Homo sapiens: one gene and its partner. The protein of the gene in region 1 purifies or fractionates together with the protein of each later gene. This does not show direct contact. Each region holds a gene or a part of one and is shown in the gene's direction. Other genes may lie near its edges. The genes, in order: SCP2D1 and EHD3.

Region 1 (2,697 bases):
TGGGACATAACATCATGGACGCCTGCTATGGCACAGTGGGAAGAGCACAGGTCACCTCTGTGGCATCCTTGTCCCAAATGCATAACCTCCACCTAACCAGGAGAAAGCATCAGGCAGTCCTCAAAGGAGGGACATTTTTGGGAATAACTGGCCAGTATTCAAGTGTCAAGGTAACGATAGACAAAGATTGAAGAGCTGCCCCAGACTGCAAGGCACTAGGGAGACCTGCAACCAAATAGATATGGTCTCACATGGTCTGTAGATTAGTTAGTAGTCATGAACCAATGTGAATTTCTCAGATTAGATCACTGTACTGTGATTATATAAGATGTTAGTTTTGGGGAAAGCTGGGAGAAGGTTAAACAGGTACTATTTTTGCAAACTTTTTATAAGACTGAAATTATTTCAGAATAAAAAGTAAAGAAATAAACAGGTGGACTTTGGAGTCATTCTGCCTCTCCTCAAATCTGGCTACACTACTTACTAACTGTGTGACATTGGGCAAGTTACTTCATTTCTCCCCTCAGTTTCCTTATATGTAAAATGGGGATAAAAAGAATACCTATCTGGGAGGCCGAGGTAGGTGGATCACTTTAGCCCAGGAGTTTGAGACCAACCTGGGCAGCATGGTGAAACCCCATTTCTACAAAAAGTACAAAGATTAGCCAGGTGTGGTGGCACACGCCGTATTCCCAGCTACTTGGGAGACTGAGGTGGGAGGATCAAATGAGCCCAGGAGGCAGAGGCTGCTGTGAGCAGAGATCGCGCCACTGTACTCCAGCCTGGGTGACAGAGCAAGACCTTGTCTCAAAAAAAAAAAAAAAAAAGAAAAAATACCTATCATAGAGGGTTGTAATGAGAGTTAAATGTGTTAATACATGTGTAGTACTTAGAACTCTGCACCTTGGCCCAGAGCAAGGGCTATACTATTACGTGTAATTATCAGAGGAGACTGGCAGCATCTTCTGATCTTAGGGACATTTAATCTCTCTGTGTGTGTCTCACTGTGCTTCTGGAAAGTTTCTGATGCAGGCTCCTGGACTGATTCCTTCTCCAATCAATTACTCTGGCCTAAAAGCATTTCCCTTTCTACCAGCAGCCAGATAAAGCCAAATTCAGCACTAGGATCTGTAGTATTAACTTAAGTATTACCCACTTAATGGGACTTAAGTGTTACCTAGTTTTAGAGGAATAAGAATAACTTCTGTCTCACGTTGGGTTTCACTGAGGAGATGTCTGCATTGGAAAGACAGAGCTCATGTCACTAAAGAAGCTTCTGGGGCCAGTTTCCCTTAACCCCATTGCAGCCTGCAGACCTTTTGGGCTTGCAGGACCAACATCCCTGATTGGTTTGGGAGGGGCGTGTGTGTGTGGATCTGCCTCACAATGGCCTGTCTGAGCCCTTATCTGAGGTCACACGTTATCATTTGTTTGGCCAATAAGACTGTAGCACACACACCAGCTTCAGTCCCCACTTGGCCTTACCTTTGATGTCACAATCTGACCTGTGGGTATTAATCTGGTCACAGCTGCTCACAGACTAGATGGCAAGGTCCAGGGGACTAGCACAGGAAGATGTGGAAGAGAAGTGACCATCAACCCAAGATCAAAGCAGAGGATGGACCTCTGGTGGGCCAGTTCGAGGTTCTGGGTTCAGTTCCAGAACCTGCCATGCCACATCCTCTAGAGCTGTCAGAATTTGAGAGCTTCCCAGTGTTTCAGGACATTAGGCTTCACATCAGGGAAGTGGGAGCTCAATTGGTCAAGAAAGTCAATGCCGTCTTTCAGCTGGACATCACCAAAAATGGGAAGACCATTTTGCGGTGGACCATTGATCTGAAGAATGGTTCTGGGGACATGTATCCGGGACCTGCCAGGCTCCCAGCAGACACTGTCTTTACAATCCCGGAGTCTGTCTTTATGGAGCTGGTTTTGGGCAAAATGAACCCGCAGAAGGCTTTCCTTGCCGGAAAGTTCAAAGTGAGTGGCAAGGTTCTGCTTAGCTGGAAGCTGGAAAGGGTTTTCAAAGACTGGGCTAAATTTTAAGCATGCAAAAATACCAAGGAAGAACTTCTCTTCGATGATAATGTCGAGTGGAAATCATGCTTAATCTGAAGATTAAAGTAAAAAGTATCCAATATTTTTACTCAAATTCTTCCTATTCAAGTTTAATTGATTTTCCTGTTGATGGGTAAATTTTCAGGGAGGGTTCTGAAGCAGTAAAAAGCGTTGTAGTGCATCAATTAGAATCTTTGTCTTTTTCTCTTTTTTTAGCTCCATTTATGCCCTTTATGCTCCATTTATGCCAGGGTGAGAGCCACGTGTAAAGAAATGGGTGATTATGATCATTGGAATTAAATACTCCAATGATTGTGTTCTTGAGACATTTTTCCTTTTCTAAAAAAGTTTGATGTTTTGGGGAAAGAAGTGATAACTATCATTGTGCAGGTGTGCATTCTGCATGGTAACTTGATTCCATGAGGAAACTTTACTATGAGACTGTGGGGTGCTAAGGGAATGGGGCACCACAGGTCTGTGGGTGGAACCCAGGCAATAGAGGGGATGGTGCTGTTGGTGTATTATAATTTCTGATGGTTTCAATTCCAAGAAACTTGAAGGGCTTGGGAGGTGTTCTAGGCCAGTGGTTCTTAACTGGAGCATGCATCAGAATCACCGGAAAGGTTGGTTAAAGTCTGG
Region 2 (2,730 bases), on another chromosome or scaffold:
GAAAACCAGTCAAGGTGGTTTTAGTTCATAGATTTTGTTAGATGTTCTTTCCACCTGGCCTATGATGTTTAGATGTTCATACTTGACTCACATTTACCCAGCCCCTCCTGCGTACCAGGAGCTGTGTTAGGCACTTTATATACATTATTCTATGTGGCCCTCACTGATGCCCCAGGGAAGTATGCATTAGCCTTCCCATTTTGCAGTTGAGGAGGCTGAGTAGCCTCAGAAGGGTTTAGGCGACCTTCTGAAACTCACAGAAGTCACGTGATGGAGAGAGGATTCAAAGCCAGGGCCTCAGACCCTCACACACTTGTCTGTGCTATGATGTATGCAGGATCCCAGCATTGATACCCAATGACAAACTATGGAGAACAAGCAAAGTATGCAGGCCCCCTGCAGCCTCCCAGGACAGGCTGGCAAGGGAGGAGGGCCGGCCAGCATTTGGTGGCCCATCAGTCTGGCCATCTGTCACGTCACAGAAGCAAACCGTGCCTTCTGGCTCTGCGCCCCATATTCCCAGCATCATAGACATCCAACAGCACCAGCAGGAGAGTGGGCTAGCCTGCTGGATGCTGTTCGTGCCTGTCCCTGCTCTGCCTCCCACCCAGTTGCCTGAATCATCCCAGCTCAGATGCAGCCACTGTCTCTTGTCAAGTGGGACCTCATACTATTCTCAGAAGGCTAACTTGAGAGGTTTGGGGCCTTGTTCCCCAGAGGGTCCCCAGGGACTCTGCAGTGTCCTTGGCAAATCCCCACTGTACTCAATGCCCTACATTCTCTTCTGTGGTCTCTCCCCTGGCTTGCTTCATGGCCACTGAACCAATCACTTTGTATGCTATGCTCCTACTGTGATGGAAAACAAAATGAGTATAACTTATTTTATATCCATATTCAGACTATATAGAGAATATTCTATGCATCTATGACGTGCTTACTACTGCAGTGCATTTGTCATTAGTCTTCATGTTAATACAGTACATTTATTCTTTGGTACCTGCCTGGCCACAGAGCATCATTCAATGGAGGCTGAGGGAGAAGGGCTGGGTTCTTACTTGGAGTTCCTGGTGAAATCTTTGGCTGGAAAGGGCTCACTGGGGCCACCCAATGGCCAGCATCCACAACCAGCTTCCCAGTGGGCTGGAGTTTGTCTAGGCTCAGTGACCAACCCAGGCACAGCTGGTGGAGCCACCGCTCCCTGCTCCTCTGGAGTGAAGATGTTCCCTAAGCCCCTGGGCTTCCTTCTGCAAATACACATTTCTCTTTCACATGAAATGAAGGGCAGACAAAGGCCAGGCAAAGAGGTCTCACCTGCTCTGGAGAAAACCCTTGAGTGCCGAGTGCAGGTTAGGGACCATTTCTCAACTCCACACCTTTCTTCAAGCTGAAGGAGAAATGGGAAGGAAATAGCAGAGGTAGGTGAAGTTCCTGTCTTTTTATTTTATAGGAAAGGGAGATGTCTGTTATCCCCTTTCTTCACTGCCACTGGACACACATGCCACTTTCCTGCCCTTCTACATATGCTGCCTCTCTTCCCTCTCTCCATCTTGAAGTCTCCACCCAGGAGAGACCTGTGAGGTGTGGGAATTCCATGTTTGCACAGCTCCCATCTCCCTGGAAAGAGGAACTGATGTTTGAGGGGACAGATGTGGGTCACTTTCCCTGGCAGTGCCCTCTAGCCTTGCTGCCTTGGCTTTCTGACCCCTTCCAGGCTTCAGGGGCCTGGGAGATCTCATGCCTCAGCCCAGGAAACATTTAATAGGGAAAGCAGAGACATGTCATGTCAGCCCCACAGACAAGAATTTCTAGAGCACTTGTCCTGTTGTTCCTTGCCCCGACATTACTCAGTCTGGGCCATGGAATCCATCCAATAAACACAGCAACACCCTATGCTACTGACCAAGCAAAGCTTGCCCCTGGTACCAAAGAGCTAAATCATGACCAAAGTGTGACATGAATGTAACTGAAATGCGGGTTAGTTGCTCAATGTATGCAAAGTCCCACGGACAAGAGTAAAGTCTGATACCAATAAAGTGAATGTATTCCAAAGCTAGCTTGGAGGAGGGGCACACAACGTCCTGCCTTTCAATGTGCCGCTTCCCCTTTGGAGCAGAAAGCAGGCACTTTTATAAGGTAAGGGAGCAAGTGAGCAAGGGTCCGCCTGATAGCATGGTGCCTTATCTACTGGACAGTTGAGTCGGGCCTTCCTGGGCAAAAATAAATTTTAAAAGTGGCCAAGTAGGCATACTTTAGATATAACCTCCTAGTGAATGAAAGTCCTGAGGCAGCCCCTGGAGGGTGGGAGTTCCAAGGCAACCCCTGGAGGTGAAAGCTCAAGGAGGGCATGTTTTGGTCTGCAAATTGGCAGTCAATTCTGGAGGACTATTTTGGAGCAGAGAGATGAACTTGCCCTGTAGGGAATGTCTAGTGAAGGGGAGATGAAAGCTTATATTTGCATTTCCCTTTTTTTGAGACAGTCTCACTCTGTCGCACAGGCTGGAGTGTAGTGGCATGATCCCAGCTCACTGCCACCTCTGCCTCCCAGGTTCAAGCCATTCTTGTGCCTCAGCCTCCCAAGTAGCTGGGACTACAGGTACTCCACCACCACGCCTGGCTAATTTTTTTTTTTTTTTTTTACTTTTAGTGAAAACAGGGTTTCACCATGTTGGCCAGGCTGGTCTTGAATTTCTGACCTCAAGTGATCTGTCCACCTCAGCCTCCCAAAGTGCT

Evidence for each region.
Region 2: the proteins of SCP2D1 (region 1) and EHD3 purify together in Homo sapiens (affinity purification with mass spectrometry; one large-scale study listed by BioGRID and IntAct). This does not show direct contact.

What each region holds. Positions count from the first base shown.
Region 1 is NC_000020.11:18,812,241-18,814,937, forward strand, and holds SCP2D1 (SCP2 sterol-binding domain-containing protein 1), read left to right. Parts: upstream 1-1,542; 5' UTR 1,543-1,575; coding exon 1,576-2,046; 3' UTR 2,047-2,138; downstream 2,139-2,697.
Region 2 is NC_000002.12:31,267,399-31,270,128, forward strand, and holds the end of EHD3 (EH domain-containing protein 3), read left to right. Parts: 3' UTR 1-2,053; downstream 2,054-2,730. UniProt on the Homo sapiens protein: ATP- and membrane-binding protein that controls membrane reorganization/tubulation upon ATP hydrolysis. In vitro causes tubulation of endocytic membranes. Binding to phosphatidic acid induces its membrane tubulation activity.